Regions from separate parts of the Homo sapiens genome. Here region 2 is linked to region 1. Evidence: fine-mapped expression QTL. A gene starts in region 1. The other region holds a variant in brackets. All regions are shown on one strand. Distances are from middle to middle.

Region 1 (8,318 bases):
CCAAGGCGGGTGGATCACAAGGTCAGAAGATCGAGACCACCCTGGCTAACACAGTGAAACCCCGTCTCTACTAAAAATACCAAAAAATTAGCCAGGCGTGGTGGCGGGCGCCTGTAGTCCCAGCTACTCGGGAGGCTGAGGCAGGAGAATGGCGTGAACCTGGGAGGCGGAGCTTGCAGTGAGCCGAGATGGCGCCACTGCACTCCAGCCTGGGCGACAGAGCTAGACTCTGTCTCAAAAAAAAAAAAAAAGAAAGAAAGAAAGAAAGAAAAGAAGAAGAACAGAGAAGCAGAGAGAAGCCAGGCCAGCTGCCCCAGTAAAGACTCAGGTTCTCACGATCCCAGGCCACTTCCAGACTGAATCAGTTCTCAGCTGTACAGCAGGTGATCTCTGCCCTACAGGGATCTGCACCCATTTACTCAGGAAACTGTCTTCTTACTATCCAGTTTTGAGAGTTTTTATATATTTTGAATTCAAAGTATTTTTTTAATCATATATATGATTCACAAATGTTTTCTCTAAGTCTATGGTTTAATTTTTCTATTTTTTTATTTTTGAGACGGAGTCTAGCTCTGTTGCCCAGGCTGGAGTGCAGTGGCGCGATCTCGGCTGACTGCAAGCTCCGCCTCCCTGGTTCACGTCATTCTCCTGCCTCAGCCTCCAGAGTAGCTGGGACTACAGGCGTCCACCGCCACCCCCGGCTAATTTTTTGTATTTTTTAGTATAGACGGCGTTTCACCGTGTTAGCCAGGATGGTCTCGATCTCCTGACCTCGTGACCTGCCCACCTCGTGCTGGGAGTACAGGCGTGAGCCACCGCGCCTGGCCCTCTCTGTGCCTTTTTTTTTTTTTCTTTTCTTTTCTTTTTTTTTTTTGTTGGAGACGGAGTTTCGCTCTTGTTGCCCAGGCTGGAGTGCAATGGCGCGATCTTGGCTCACTGCAACCTCTGTCTCCTGGGTTCAAGCAATTCTCCTGCCTCAGCCTCCGGAGTAGCTGGGATTACAGGCATGCACCACCATGCCCGGCTAATTTTGTATTTTTAGTAGAGACAGGGTTTCTCCATGTTGGTCAGGCTGGTCTTGAACTCCCGACCTCAGGTGGTCCACAACCTCGGCCTCCCAAAGTGCTGGGATTACAGGCGTTAGCCACCATGCCCAGCCTGGCACAATTTAGCATAAAGTTTTTGAGGTCTTTGTACTATTCCAGTAGGACAGTTGGTGAAACTTGAATAAGATCCGTAAAATACTTGATTACTAACTTGTATCAATGGAAATCTCTTGGTTTATAACTGAATTTTGGTTATACAAGTTTTTTTTTTTTTTTTTTTTTTTTTTTTTTTTTTTTTTTTTTTTTTGAGACACAGTCTCGCTCCGTCGCTCAGGTGTGATCTTGGCTCACTGCATCCTCTGCCTCCTGGGTTCAAGCAATTCTCCTCTCTCAGCCTCCCAAGTGGCTGGGATTATAGGTGCCTGCTACCACGCCTGACTAATTTTTGTATTTTTAGTAGAGATGGGGTTTCACCATGTTGGCCAGGCTGACCTCAAACTCCTAACTTCAGGTAATCCGCCCACCTTAGCCTCCTAAAGTGTTGGGATTACAGGCATGAGCCACCGCGCCTGGCCGAGACTGTAGATTTTTGCAACTTTTTTGTAAGTCTAAAATAATTTCAGCCAAGCATGGTGGCTCATGCCTGTAATCCCAGCACTTTGGGAGGCTGAGGCAGAGGATCACTTCAGCCCAGGAGTTTGAGACCAGCCTGCAACATAGCAAGACTCCATCTCTGGAAAAAAAAAAAAAAAATTAGAGCCTGTGGTCCCAGCTACTTGAGAGGCTTGAGGTGGGAGGATTGCTTGAGCCCGGGAGTTTGAGGATGCAGTGAGGCATGTTGAGCCACTGCACTCCAGCCTGGGCAACAGAGCACGATCCTGTCTCAAATATAAAATAATTTCTAAATAAACTTTCTTGTTCAAGCTCAGGGTCTGAGTTGTGCACTGCCTATGATCCACTCCACAGAAGTTCTGATTTCTTCTCTGTGCAATGGTTCTGCCGGCCTTTCTGCCGCCCAGAGGTCCTGGTGAGTGGGCATCAGAGACTCCTTAGGGCTCTGTGGAGGCTCAGGGAGGAGCTTTCGCTTCCCTCCTGATGCTGGTGCCTCCAGAGCTAGACAGGAAGATGGAAGCTGGGTGGCCCGAGCAGGGGTGGGGGCTTGGCTGGCCCTCCTGTCAGCTTGAGCTGGCTTGAGCCCAGGCAGGGCCCTGACAGCCTGGGCAGGCTCAGAGGGAGGGAGGTGGGAACCAAGAGACCCGGGGAGGGCTCCCGGGGCCAAGACCCAGGTCCCTGCCCTGCACATCTGCCAAGGGACTTCCTCAGAAGCTGCTGATGTTAGGCTTTGGCTTCCTGCTGTGGACTGAGGGGATGAACTCCGACGGGAGGACATTCAGGCCTTGGAGGAAATGAGAGCTTGGCTGACAGGAGGGCCTGGACTCACGAAGACACTTGGACACCCACAAGCACAGAGACATGGGTGTGTGACAACTGACCAAGGGGCATGCAGGTATGTATGCGTGGTGCACACAGACACCCTGGGCACAGCCCACTGGCACCAGCGTCAACCCCTGCGTGGTGGGCTGCATCCCACCCTTCAGGCAGGCCCTGTGGGGCAGGTTTCAGGGAGGAAGGAGGCTGAGTGGGCAGAGTCTGAGGACGCGGCCACCATCGCTCCCTGGCACTACATCTGTGTCCGGGATCTAGGAGGCAGTCCTCCATCACTGAGCCCCAAGATGACTGTCACAGCTTGGTCTAAAGCAGGGGCCGGGCCTGAGCCCTGGCCCCTGCCCTGGAGGAGCTCACAGAGCCCCCAGCTGGGGCATATCTGGTTTCCGGGGGCAGGGGCGATACCCAGAGGAGGAAGAAGGGATTCTGAGAGAGCCCAACAGGCTCCGAGCCTCAGGCTGGAGCTGAGCTTGGGGCAGCAAGGAAGGACCAGGTGCGAGGGCAGAACCATGCGGCCCGACCCCTGCAGCACGGCCTGTGGCCTCCCCCAGCTCCTGCCCGTGCTTCTGGGTCAGTCTGGACTTTGCCACTTCTGACCAAAAGCCACCGCAAACCCACTCAAGCCAAAAGAGGAAGTGACCGTTAGGCCCAACTGGGAAGGCTGGCGGCCAGGGGCACTCCAGGCAGGGCGAGGGGGGCGGCCGGGGGCGCTCCAGGCGGGGCGAGGGAGACACCCAGAACTCCAGGCAGGAGTCCTCGGGTGCCACCTTTCCTCTCCACCTGGCCCTGCGTGGGCTCTGTCCTCAGGGTGGCCCGCCGTAGTCCCCCTCCCCACTCTGAGTTTCCTGTCCCAAAGTCCTAAGGAAGTTTCCAGAACTACATCTCACCATCTTGAGTCAGCCTTGGCTCAGTGTCCATCTCACAGGCCTGGAAGGGGCAGGAGTCAGCACTGTCCAGACCACAGGGCCTGAGTGTGGGGAGGGCAGCCGTCTAGGAAGGTGGTGGAGGGTTGTTACCTTGAGGCAAGAGGGCTGCGGGGCAGAAAGACACAGCAGGTGACTGTTGTGGGAGGCCCAAGAGAGGCCTGGGAGAGGGATGGCCCACAAGGGCTGACCCTCCCGCCACCCAGGGGGCCTTGGACAGGTTTCCTCCTGGCAGGGTGGCCCTTGTGCATGGAACCCCTACAACGACTAAGGCTGGCAGGCATGAGGTTTCCTGAAGGAGAAAGAGCTTGTGGGGCCCAGTGTGGCTGGGGGGGCGCTGGGACTCCATTCTGAAGCCAAAGGCACTGGGAAGGGCTTCCGCAGAGGAGGGTTTGGCAGGGGTTGCCAGGAACAGCCTGGATGGGGACAGGGAACAGATAAGGTGGGTGGAGGAGTTAGCCGGGAGCCTGGGGCTGGCTCCAGCATGATGTGGGGGTCTGCAAGGCCCTGGAGAAAGTGGGGTGGTGCAGCAGGGGGCACACCCACAGCTGGAGCTGACCCAGATGGACAGCTTGGGCTCTGCCACGCGGGACTAGGCAAGGAAGGGGCACGAACAAGCAGGAAGTGGTGAGGCGGTCTCCAGCTAGCTGCTCTCCCCTGCCCAGACTTTGGTTTCCTCCCTGCTGGCTTGGCCTGGCTCCCTGGCTCTGTGTGGTATGGTCACACCCCCGTGCACCCCCTCCACTGAGATGGGGCGGGGAGAGCACCGAGGCTGCTCTTCCTCTCCTGGGCCGTCCTCTGAGCAGCAGACGGGGCTAAGCGTTCCCCAGCTCGCCTTCACACACAGCCCGTGCCACCACACCGACGGTACCATGAAGGACGAGGTAGCTCTACTGGCTGCTGTCACCCTCCTGGGAGTCCTGCTGCAAGGTGGGCTGGTTCCTATCTAGGAAGAGGGTGGGCCTTAGATCCCTACAGCTTGCCCTCTGCCCCCTAGGCCCAGGTGGAGGGCAGAGGTGGGGACTCCAGCCCAGGCCCAAGCTGGAAGAGGGTGGGGACTTTCAGGGAACTGGGGGGCACCTGGCTGTGAGAGCTGTAGGACTTGGGGGTGGCAAGGGTGCCAGGACAAATGGTAGGATAGCCATGGGCTTGGGGAAGCTGATCTCTGCTCTTTCCAGCTGTCCCCTCTCTGGGCGTCCCAGCAAGCGGCCCCCATTCCCTGGCTCTGCTTCAAAGGCACCTCCATACTGGGACCACGTGGAGCAGGGTAGAGGTGGGACTCCTTCCTCCAGCCCCCTAAAAAGAGCCTGCTTAATGCCTTTCTCAGACTGGCCCTAAAGGACACATTCCTTGGCCAGATATCCTTGCCACCTAAGAGACACCACTACTCCACAGTGTGTGGGCTAGGATAAGGCACAGCCTGGGGAGGGGGCTCTGAAGGGGCTGAACAGACAGGCCAGCCTGACCTCCAGCTGCTCCTGCACTGAGCTGGATGGCCACCCTGTGACACCCATCTGCAGAGGGCCCAGAACCAAAGGTGCCAGGGCTGCAGGACTCAGGGGGAGATGGTCCGACGGGAGGTCTGGGGAGGGAGCGCACAGCCAGCACTGGTCTGTGTGTGGTCTGGCCTGGCCTCACCTGACCAAGAGAAGGGCTCCTGCCCACAGAGAAACTTTAGGGCCAGCCCACCCTCTGCAACTACCCCAGCCCTGGGGTCCTGGGGTTAGGCTAGGAGAGTCCCAGCTGCAACCTCCTGGGAGCAGGAGAGAAGGTGTCTGTCAGATTTAGGCCTGGGACCGGAATGCAGGAACAGAGAAACTGAGGTTTGGAGGCACAGGGACGCAGGCTTTAGTGATCCCGGCCTGAGGCAGGGTCAGAGGGCCCTGCTGGTGGGCGCTGGTAGGTGGGTGACCAGGGACTGTTAGCTACAGGGAGTGTGCTTCCTTGCACCTGGGAGGATGCAGCCAGCTCTGCCCTCAGACTCCCGAGGCACTTCCTGGCCAGGGACCTGAAAGCTGCATTTGCCTGTGTTTTGAGAGTGAAATGATTCAGAAACAAGGACTCAAGTGGTCTCTCTCGCGGAGCAGGTGTCCCTGTGCCTGAATCACTCACCCTCCCCCATACACTCACAGGTTGGGACAGGGCCTCTCTGCGCCCCAGGCTTCAGCCCTGCCCTCCTCGCTGAATGTCAGGGACACAGGGCAGGCCAGGGATGGGTGAGACGAGAGGTCTCCTCGGGCGGGGAGGGGGCGGGGTTCCGCCTTAGGGAGGAGAGGACACGGCCAAGTGAAGGGCCAGATTGCAGGATCCCTCCCACTCCCATCTCTGGGGCTTCGGGTGTCCAGACCTGACTCCCGCTCCCCCTCCTCCCCCAGCCTACTTCTCCCTGCAGGTGATCTCGGCGCGCAGGGCCTTCCGCGTGTCGCCGCCGCTCACCACCGGCCCACCCGAGTTCGAGCGCGTCTACCGAGCCCAGTGAGGCGCGGCGGGAGGGCGCGGGGCGGGGAGCGAGCCCCAGGCGGGTCCGGGTCGCAGGACCATCCCGGCCGGCGCGCTCATCCCACCCGCCCACCGCAGGGTGAACTGCAGCGAGTACTTCCCGCTGTTCCTCGCCACGCTCTGGGTCGCCGGCATCTTCTTTCATGAAGGTCGGGGTGTGGGGCAGGGGCGCACGCGCTGGACCCCCGGGACCCGCGCAGGGCGCTCACCAGGCCCGTGCGTACCTCTCGCAGGGGCGGCGGCCCTGTGCGGCCTGGTCTACCTGTTCGCGCGCCTCCGCTACTTCCAGGGCTACGCGCGCTCCGCGCAGCTCAGGTGAGGGCCGGGCGGGGAGCGGGGCGGGGCCGGGGAAAGATCGCGGGCGGGCGGGGCTCCTGGGGAGCGGGACCGAAGCTGGGGGCGGGCGACGGGCCGGAGCCCAGCGCCTTTGGGGATTCGGTGGGCGAGCCCTGGCGGCGGCCAGAGGAAGTCCCCGTGGGGCCAGGGTTGCGGCGGGGAAGAAGCGGGCCTCCTCGCGCCACCTCCCCGCTGACCGCCGCCCGCAGGCTGGCACCGCTGTACGCGAGCGCGCGCGCCCTCTGGCTGCTGGTGGCGCTGGCTGCGCTCGGCCTGCTCGCCCACTTCCTCCCGGCCGCGCTGCGCGCCGCGCTCCTCGGACGGCTCCGGACGCTGCTGCCGTGGGCCTGAGACCAAGGCCCCCGGGCCGACGGAGCCGGGAAAGAAGAGCCGGAGCCTCCAGCTGCCCCGGGGAGGGGCGCTCGCTTCCGCATCCTAGTCTCTATCATTAAAGTTCTAGTGACCGAGACCCGGGCTGCGTTCTCTGGGTCCGCGGGGGTGGCGCACCGCGGGCTACGGAGCCTGGAGGGGCCCAGCCCGAGTCCGGGCAGCCCGGGGCGGGCTTCCTAGTGGCGGCGTGAGAGTGGCTGCGAAGGAACGAGCCCTCCCCCTGGGGCGGGACTGGATCCGGTCTTCACCTCCTACCCCACTCCCTACTCAGCCTCGGGGTCACAAGGCCGCCCAGTCCTGCCGGGGTTCACCCTCCTAGCGCTCAGCGGTCTCCTCACCGGTCCCCCTCCTCAGGGGCCTTCCCTCGACTCTCAGCCGCCGCAGTCCCTCGTCCCCTGGCCTTCACAGCTGACACTAGATAGAGCCTGTGGCTCTCTCCCCAGGTGAGGGCAGGGGTTTTTCTTTTGGTCAGCACTGGATCCCCCTCGTTAACTGTAGGTGTTCAGGGCAGCCCTCCGAGGTCCGCAGAGCTGCGGGCACCATGGGAACGAAGTGAGTCAGTGACAGGCGGTCTCAAGGAAATGTCCAGAAGCCTTGGGGATCCAGGGGAGGCCCACAGAAACAAAGAAGTGACTTTTAGCCAAGTATGCAGGAGAAACGGAGAAAGGAGAGCTTTCCAAGGAGGGGCAACAGTGTGTGCAAAGGCCCTGAGGTGAGCGGGAGACCCTAATGTGCCAGAGGAGTGTCGGGGACCCAGGATGAGGACCAAGCTGAGACACACGGAGGGGAACAAGGAGGCTGGGAAATGCCTTCAGCTTGAGGAGCTAAGGGAAGGCCTCATCGCAGGCCTTGGACATGGGGGAGACATTCGGGGGACCTGCTATAGGCATTGTGGTCCCAGATTCTGAGCTGGTTTCACCAGTGACAGACTTTGCGGCCTGATCCTAGGAAGGGGGGTACGCTGGCGCCGAGGTGGCACTGCAGCTGCACAGCCAGGGGCTGGACCCCGCGCCTGCAGGCCAGGCTGGCTCCTTGACTTAGCAGGGAAAGGTCGCTGCTGATGCTGGCTGGGGAGGCCCAGTGCCAGGCTTAGTTGGCATGTTGGGGCACAGACCAAATGAAGCCAACCGCAGGGGCAGAGGGAGATGCCCAGGGCGCTCACATTTGAGGCACACACTTCATTAACCCTTTATTACAAGTCACGCTCTTATAGAAGTATATGTGGACTTACGTGAAAAAATCAAATGTATCCAAGAATAAAAAACACAGCACATAAAGTAGTATATGCATTCCAGTGTTCGCGCCAGAGACGGCGGGCGCCCAAGTAAAAGCTCTTCTAAAACGGCCTGACTGGGGCAGGCCGGGTGCGAACGGTTCCGGGCCTCAGGCACAGTGTGGGGGCCGCCTGCCTCCTCCGCGGCCCGGCGGGCGGGGGCAGCACCAGCTCCTAGGGCCTCCGGGCCAGCGGCGGACCCCAGGCCGGCCCAAGCCCGACGCCAGGCAGAACCCTTTGGGCGGGGCCGTATCTGGCCCTCCGGGGACGGCAGTGACGACACCCCCAGAAATGTGGGCTTCAGGGCTGGCCACAGGGTACCCTCAGAAGCCCGCAGCTTAGTCGGCCTTTTTCAGGAAGATCTGGAAGAGCCGGACCCAGGGTCAGCAGGGCCTCTGAGCTCCG
Region 2 (8,318 bases), 19 kb before region 1:
TTATTCATTCGTCTGTTCATGAACATTTGGGTTTCTTGTTTGGGCTGTTAATGAGTATTGCTGCTATGAACATTCATGTACAAGTTTTCATATAGACATCTGTTTTCATTTTTCTTGGGTAGATACCTGGGAGTGGAATTGCTGGATCACATGGTAATTTTTATGTTTAACCTTTGGAGGAACTGTCAGACTGTTTCCCACAGGCTGTCTCATTTTACATTCCCACCAGCGGTGTATGAGGGTGCTGATTTCTCTACATCCTCACCAACCACTTGTTATCATCTGACTTTGATTCTGGCCATCCTAGTGGGATCTCATTGTAGCTGTGATTTGCATTTTCCTAACCAGCTCTCCATTTTTTAAAAACAGGTATACCTACCTTTTAAAAAAGTCATTGCTCCCTAGATCTGTTTCATACTATTTAAAAACCCCAAAATGAAATCAGCACTATTTCCACAGGAGCCCATTTGTGAGTAACAAACTTGGATAAGTTACTTTTCTCTGACCTCCCTCACTCCCTTTGTTTTGGATTTTGTTATATGTTGGTTTTGTTTTGTTGTTCTTGGCATTTTCTAGGAGAAGCAACAGTTTCAGCGCCATCTGACCCGCCCACCACCCCAGTACCAAGACCCGACACAAGGCAGCTTCCCACAGCAGGTTGGACAGTTCACAGGTAGGGGGTGTCTGTGTGACGAGCAGGGACAGGGGAGGCCGCTGCCTGGTGCTGGTTGAATCCCTGCTGTCTGCCCAGCTCTATGCCTTGACTTCATCAGGCTGCATGCATTGTCATCATATACACCTCAGTTTGCCTAAGGGGCCTGGTTTTCTAGTTACTCCACGGCATCAGGAGAAGAGGGCACAGAGGCAAACCACTAGAACTACCTTTGCTGGGTCCCTGGCTGTACAGTTTTCTGAAGCAAAATCATTTCTAGTTGGAGGACATCTTATCAGCAGGAAATAGCTTCTGTAATTCTCAAGAAAGTTCTTTGCTTCTGCTTTTATGTGTCTTCAAAAAATGACTCCTATCTTCCAGATAAGGACTTAATGCACTTGCGTGGCCTTTGGCTTCTTTCTCTCCTCCTGTCTGCTCACTTGAATATCACAGATGGCAGCATCACTAGTGGACAGTTGGCCAGAAAAGGGCAGGAAGCACACTTGAGTCTAGCTGTCGCCTCTGAGATGTGCCAGGGAACTTCATAGGCCATCCCTCCAGAAATGCACAAAGATTTCAGGGAATGGATACAGGAAGCTCTGGTCTGCCCGCCTTCCTAGCTCCTCTCAGAATGTCTTAGAAACCTCTGTTTTTCCTTATTTGGGACCTTGCTATAAAGGGTCCCAGAGAGACTGACCACAGCTGTGTGTCCTGGAGGAGACCAGGTACGGTTTTATGTATGTGCTACCTGGGGTCAACGTGGGGTTGAAATCTGCAGGCATTTCAGAAGCATGGGTCTGACCCATGTTTTCTGCCTTCAGACCCATCTGACATTTTGTGGATTATTGATGGGAATGAAATAGCCGGTTTCAGCTCTCCTCTTTTCCTCAACCCAATTTCATTGTTGTTGTTTTGAAACAGAGTCTTGGTCTGTCGCCCAGGCTGCAGTGCAGTGGCACGATCTTGGCTCACTACAACCTCCACCTCCTAGGTTCAAGCGATTCTCCTGCCTCAGCCTCCCAAGCAGCTGGGATTACAGGCGCCTGCCACCACGCCCGGCTCATTTTTGTATTTTTAGTAGAGATGGGCTTTCACCATGTTAGCCAGGCTGATCTCACATACCTGACCTCGTGATCTGCCCGCCTTGGCCTCCCAAAGTGCTAGGATTACAGGTGTGAGCTACCGTGCCCGGCCCCAATTTTTATTATATGGTTGCTAGTAGAGAGGAAGAAGAACAAAGCACTGAGTTACGGCCAATCCCTGAACAATGACTCTCCTACCCACAAAACCTAATTCAGTTAATGGTGTTGTCATATGTCCATTGCTTAAGCCAGGAGGCCTAGACAGCAGTTCCCTGAGCATAGGGGTGCTTTCTCTTCCACCCTCTGCTGTCTCTCCAGCACAGCACCTGCCACAGAGTGGGTACTCAGTGAAGATCTGGTAATTTCCTGCGACTCCTCCCTCCTTTGGCCACCTTGTCATTTCATAGTATAAATGGTGTGCCATAAGATGGTATATTGTCTGGTGAGATGTTGTCACACAGTTCTGCACCTCCACCCCCCATTCCCACATGGTCTGCCCTCCCTCATCTCCGTGACTGAACAGCCTCTCCCCAGCATGGTCTCAGCCACACTCTCAGTCCAGCCACTCTTGGGCTTTACAACCCTGTTCTTTGTTTGTTTGTTTGAGACAGAGTCTTGCTCTTTCGCCTAGGCTGGAGTGCAGTGGCATGATCTCGGCTCACTGCAGCCTCCGCCTCCCGGATTCAAGCAATTCTCCTGCCTCAGCCTCCCGAGTAGCTGGGGGCGCGCGCCGCCACGCCTGGCTAATTTTTGTATTTTTAGTAGAGACAGGGTTTCACTATGTTGGCCAGGATGGTCTTGATCTCCTGACCTCGTGATTCGCCCGCCTCGGTCTCCCAAAGTGCTGGGATTACAGGCGTGAACCACCGCGCCCGGCCACAACCCCGTTCTTCACACGCCATCCACAGCTCTTCCCTATCTGGCCGGAACTAGCTCTTCCATTTTATCTCTAACCAGCTGGCCACTGTCTGCATATCCCGGCCACGGCCAGTCTCTGAAAGTTCCCCACACAGATGCCTTTTTCTGACTCTGCCTTTGCACACACTTGCCTGGAATGCTCTTTTTCCCCAAACTGTTAAATTGCTAAACTTCTGTGCTTTTAAACCTAGTGGATTCATCACTGTCTCTCTCAAGCCTTGCCCAAGGCTTCCCAGATGCCAGGGCTTCCAGCCTGCACCCTGCAGCCTGCTGGCCAGGCGCGCCCCATCGCGCCCCATTGCGCCCCATCGTGCCATGTGCTAACTTTGCCTCCCAGAGGCGGATCTTGCGTTGGGTCCACCTCAGAGTCCCCGGTGCCCACCACAGGGTCCCCACAGAGCAGAAATTTGGTGGGTGCTTGAAAGTTAGATGAAGTAGGTCACTGGTTTTCTCTCCCCTGGGGCTTTGCCCTTCCTCTGTGCCTTTCTGAACCCCATCATTGTTTCAGAGACCAGGCCTCCATTCCACCTGTGGAAGGCTTTCTGCCCCATGGCCCCCGGGGCCCTCTTCCCAGTGTGCCGTGAACGTGAGACTTCTGGTGCTGCGGCTCGAGTCTCAGAGGGACCCAGTGGTGGTCGACTCCTGACTGCCAGACTCTTCTCTGTCTTGTAGGGTCCTCTGCTGC[C/G]GTGCCCGGCATGAACACCTTGGGTCCATCCAACTCCAGCTGTCCTCGAGTGTTCCCTCAGGCTGGGAATCTGATGCCAATGGGCCCTGGACATGCTTCAGTTTCCTCTCTCCCCACAAACTCAGGCCAACAGGACCGGGGTGTGGCTCAGTTCCCTGGCTCCCAAAACATGCCTCAGAGCAGCCTCTATGGCATGGCTTCTGGCATAACCCAGATAGTTGCCCAGCCCCCGCCACAGGCCACCAATGGACATGCCCACATTCCACGGCAGACCAACGTGGGCCAGAACACCTCCGTCTCAGCTGCCTATGGGCAGAACTCTCTGGGAAGCTCTGGCCTCTCCCAGCAGCACAATAAGGGGACCCTGAACCCTGGTTTAACAAAGCCACCGGTCCCAAGGGTGTCACCAGCCATGGGAGGCCAGAATTCCTCCTGGCAGCATCAGGGAATGCCGAACCTCAGTGGCCAGACCCCAGGGAACAGCAACGTGAGTCCCTTCACTGCAGCCTCCAGTTTCCACATGCAGCAGCAGGCCCACCTGAAAATGTCTAGCCCGCAATTCTCCCAGGCAGTGCCCAACAGGCCCATGGCTCCCATGAGCTCAGCAGCTGCCGTGGGGTCCTTGCTACCCCCAGTGAGTGCACAGCAGAGGACCAGCGCCCCTGCCCCAGCACCACCCCCAACAGCCCCTCAGCAGGGCTTGCCTGGCCTGAGCCCAGCAGGGCCTGAGCTGGGGGCCTTCAGCCAGAGCCCTGCCTCACAGATGGGCGGTCGGGCGGGGCTGCACTGCACCCAGGCCTACCCTGTGCGGACCGCGGGCCAGGAGCTGCCTTTTGCCTATAGCGGGCAGCCAGGTGGCAGTGGGCTCTCTAGTGTGGCTGGACACACCGATCTGATCGACTCCCTGCTGAAGAACAGGACTTCAGAGGAGTGGATGAGTGATTTGGACGACCTGTTAGGGTCTCAGTAATGGAAGGATTTGTAGTGTTTTTAGTGTTCATTCATCCTATATTTTTATTCTCAGATTCAAAGAAAGAGCAACTACTTTGGACCAAAAGCCCATGGCCTGGGGAGCTGGGCAGGTAGAGCCCAAGCTCCAGGTGAGGCCTGGCCCTGGGCAGGGTCTGTGGCTGCGCCCCTCAGGCCAGCAGTTGAGGTCCATCGGGCTGGCCCCAGCCCATCTGCTGGCATCAGTACCTGGTGTTGGGACAGCAGGATAGGGTTCTAAAGGTGGTTTTCTATCCAAACGACCAAAAAACCAACAGTAACACCAGTGAAACCCCACACTGTCGGGCTTATAAAAATCTGTGCCATCATGGTGATTTTATCCAAGACTGCTCCACTTACCCCAGTGCTGGGGACAAGTTTCTGTTGAAACTTTAGATAGCAGAATTATTTGCAATTTGTAGCATAGAAAAGATTTTTAAATTTTTTTACAAAAGGTTTTTAAACAGATTAGGGTAGGTGATGGTTTAAATCAATTAAGTGGCATTGGAAACCTAGGGTTTCCTTTTGATTAAGAGCCTTTTTTGTTTCTGCTCTTTGTCAGCTTTCAGGGGAGAAGGAGGCCACTGGAAAATTATTTCCCTAAGTGCAGGCTGTTGACTGCGTATGCCAAAAAGGGACAGGAGGCATGGGATAGCAGGTCTGGTGACACAGCTAGGGTCTTCCTAGCAGCTCCTCCTCCTCCCTCCCAAGGCCCCCAGGAATCCCTTCCTCCCATGTCCTGGCAGCAGGACCCCAGGCTACATATGGAAGGTAGAGATGTGGGGGTCCTGTATCCTGGAGTATTATGTCTCCCCACCTTCTGCAGTTTTCTCTGAACATGTATGTTGCCCATGGTGGGAGCGTGGTCACTGTGCAGTTGTGCACAGATGTCTTTCCTTTACCGTTGGCCTTTCTGTCTGCCTCTCCTTCCTCTCTGCAGCCCAAATGGAAAACAATTATTTACTCCATTGGAGGGAAAGGAAGAGTCTTAGAATTCCTAAGGGAACCTTAGCATAAAGGTTTTGGGGAAGGAGGCCGTAGGCCGGCCCGGAGGAAGCAATTCCACTTGGTTTGACAACTTCTGCCACTCCCATGTCAGATGACTTGCACTTCTTAAAGAGATTGCTTTATAACACTAAGACATCCTTTCTAAAGATTCAAGTGGACTTGACTAAGCTGAGGGTCCACGAAATAGAATATGACATGTGAGCTGTTTTTGGAAAACGAAGATGGAGAGAGCACTTCCCCGTAACGAAAGCAAAGTGGTAAGCACAGGGTGAGACCCTTTTACACAGAATGGTGGAGAGAAAAGAGAATGCTGAAAAGTGGCTCAGATGCAGAGTGTTCTGTGGAGAAACTGCAGCCCCACTTCTGTTTCCCTGGAGTCTCCCAATGGATCATTCAGGAGTGTCCTATGTGAGAATTGAGCCAAGGAAAATACTCATGCAACCAGCCTGAGTCGCGGTGAGGGGACGAGAGGTTGTACACACATTGGTAGTTATTTTGCACCAGCAGTGCCTTTCTCACTGGGGGTACTTGGACCCTCAGATCTTCTTTTCTAATAGCCATTTGCCACCCCAAGTGGTATGTCGGCCATTTCTCCTTAAAACACCTTCCCTACCTTTCCCATGTACTCAGTTTAGCTCTCAAAGAAGGGGTGAATCATAAAGCCAGTGAAAATTTCACCCTCTGAGGGAGTTCCCCAATCTGAAGGGGAAGAGGGTGACCTCAGCGGCTTTTCTCCCAAAAATCGGCTGAAGGCTGGTTGTGGATCCTTGTTCCTCTCCTGACCCCATCTGGCTGCTGCCCCGTCTCCCACCCCTGTCCCCGGGGCTCGCTGGCCCTGCACTCCGCCTTAGTCCTGGGGCCGGCGACACAGTGGGGGCTCCTCACTTGCTGCAGTGTCATAGCAATAAAATGTGATTCTTGGGGTCCCCCCAGGGAGCTGCCCATGGCTTTATTTATGAACCTGGTTTTCGGGAGTCAGGGGAGGAGATGACTTTGCTTCTGTGCACAGCCCCGTCTTCCAGGAGCCACAACTCAGAAGAAAAGGGTGCTCAGACTTTTGTTATACACATTTGCTTTGTGTAAATAAATGTTTACAATTTTATATGAAAGATGGAATAAGCGCTAGAGCTTCCAACTGTATATTTTTTACTTTTATAGATTTTAAAACTATGATCCTTTATATGTGTGTTTTGGGGGAGCTATGATAAGTTTTATGGCAAACGGTTGGTATTGTTAACTTTTTATTGTCATCAAAAGTTCATAAAAGTCCTATTAATCCCCATATTCTTCTACTGCCCTTAACTCTGGTATACACCAAAAAGAAATCTTTACTTTCCTTGTTTTATCATTATAAAAATAAAGTATTTTGCTAGTATGGAAACAACCTTTGTATTTGACGTCACCTGGGGTCTGCTGGCAGAAGTTTGGGGATTGGTTTTCTTTTGTAATTTAGCTGCTTGCTTTTCTTGGTTTTTTAATTTTTTCTTTTTAAAGAAATGCTTGTCGAGTCATAGATTTAGCTGCTTTCTTATTGCACATTGTTGGGTGGGAGCTGGTTTGGTTGAAGCCTCAGAGGAGCTTCTGTTATCTGCTGATAGATACTAAATTAGAGCTAGCATCACCCTGAGAAAGCAGGCTGGCCCCAGGACTCACGGGCGTCCATGCAGCTGATGGAGGGGAGCTGGACCGGACGACTGTGCTCTCTTAGCTCTAGCATCACCCTGAGAAAGCAGCCTGTCTCCGGGACTCACGGGCATCCATGCGGCTGATGGAGGGAGCTGGGCCGGACGACTGTGCTTCTCGTGCTTCATGTAGAACCCTTAGGTTTGCCCCTGAAGTCTGTCTGCTCCATGTACTATTTAGTTGCTTTTCAGCATAGAGCTTGGTTTTCCCTTTTTTTAATTGTAAGAATGATGTGCTCTGGCATGTCACACTGTGAAAGGGGACCAGATGATGGAGCCTGGACTGAAAGGGTGAATGGGGCCGCTCACCTCAGAACTCTCCCTGCTTTGCTTTGCTGGGAGCAGGGAGCAGGGCAGCCTGGGAGAGGCTGGAGTTCCTCAAAGGGCAGAGAAGAATGGCCTTCAGGGGACCACAGGGAGGAACCATGCCATGATAGACTCAAAAAGCTAGATTATGCTAATAAAAAGGGGAAGACATCTGTGACACACAGGAAACAGTGTTCGTGGCCTTGCCATAGAAGGCGCAGTAAAGGAGGAAAACTCCGGAGACTCCCTGTGAATTCTTGGCTAAGAATGCACGTTATCTGCAGTGATCTAAAAACACAAACGAGAACAGAAGTGAGTGGCCCTACCTGTGAGATGCACAGTGCTGAGCGGCACCCAGCGCTGGCTGCAGGATGGGAGGCTGGCTGCCGTATGATTGTTCGTGGGAAGAAATTTTGTAGAAGTTATCAAGCTCCTTAAAATGTTCGTGCTGTGTCTGCCTGGACAGTTGCAATTCTGAGAAGCGATCCTTGAAAATGATTCTGGGTATAGAAAAAGGTACAGCACAGTGGTGTTCTTAGTATGGCTGTTTACAGTCGCAGAAAATGAGATGCTAAACTGCTGCCCTAGGGGATTGGTTAAGCAAACTGGTGCTTCCACTCCATGAGATAGGATGCAGCCATTTGAAATATTTATGAAGGTTTTGGACAGTCATTTGGAATAATGGTTTTGTTGGGGCTCTTAACTTGCAAGCCAATAGAAAAGAAATCTGGCTAATATAATCCTATAAATTATTTCCCTACAGCCCATTTTTAAGGTTCCCAGTAACTTTCAGAATCAAAGGAGACATCGGATGGCCAGGCCTCAGTAGTGGCAAGGCCCAGGCAGTTCCAGATCCCTGCAGCCTGCCACTACCCCGAGTCTCTCCAGGTCACCAGCCAGGCTTGGGGGTGATGGAGGAGGACTCGGTAAGGGACAGTTCACTTGGCAAATGTTTAGGGAGCACCTGCTGTGGCCAGGCATTGCCCTAGAGGCAGGGA

What was found.
Region 2: its variant is fine-mapped to the expression of LTC4S in whole blood (INTERVAL, PIP above 0.99). The same link has a PIP of 0.9 or more in cerebellar hemisphere, cerebral cortex, skeletal muscle and tibial nerve.

Annotation. Positions count from the first base shown.
Region 1 is chr5:179,789,794-179,798,111 of GRCh38, forward strand. LTC4S (leukotriene C4 synthase) reads left to right here and starts at 4,193. Exons shown (of 5, transcript NM_145867.2): 1 at 4,193-4,345; 2 at 5,791-5,890; 3 at 5,993-6,063; 4 at 6,148-6,229; 5 at 6,460-6,854. The coding sequence starts at 4,288. The coding sequence ends at 6,601. It overlaps MGAT4B (alpha-1,3-mannosyl-glycoprotein 4-beta-N-acetylglucosaminyltransferase B), which reads right to left. Exons shown (of 15, transcript NM_014275.5): 15 at 7,817-8,275. The coding sequence ends at 8,252. RefSeq lists enhancers at 3,381-4,008, 3,583-3,662, 3,683-3,832, 5,316-5,988 and silencers at 4,183-4,252, 5,798-6,507, 6,548-6,597, 6,618-6,777, 6,622-6,833.
Region 2 is chr5:179,770,571-179,778,888 of GRCh38, forward strand. It overlaps MAML1 (mastermind like transcriptional coactivator 1), which reads left to right. Exons shown (of 5, transcript NM_014757.5): 4 at 577-673; 5 at 3,325-6,713. The coding sequence ends at 4,307. Among named protein-coding and RNA genes, the nearest start is that of LTC4S, 19 kb to the right of the region's middle. RefSeq lists a silencer at 2,585-2,785. The variant C/G (reference allele first, on the strand shown) is at 3,338.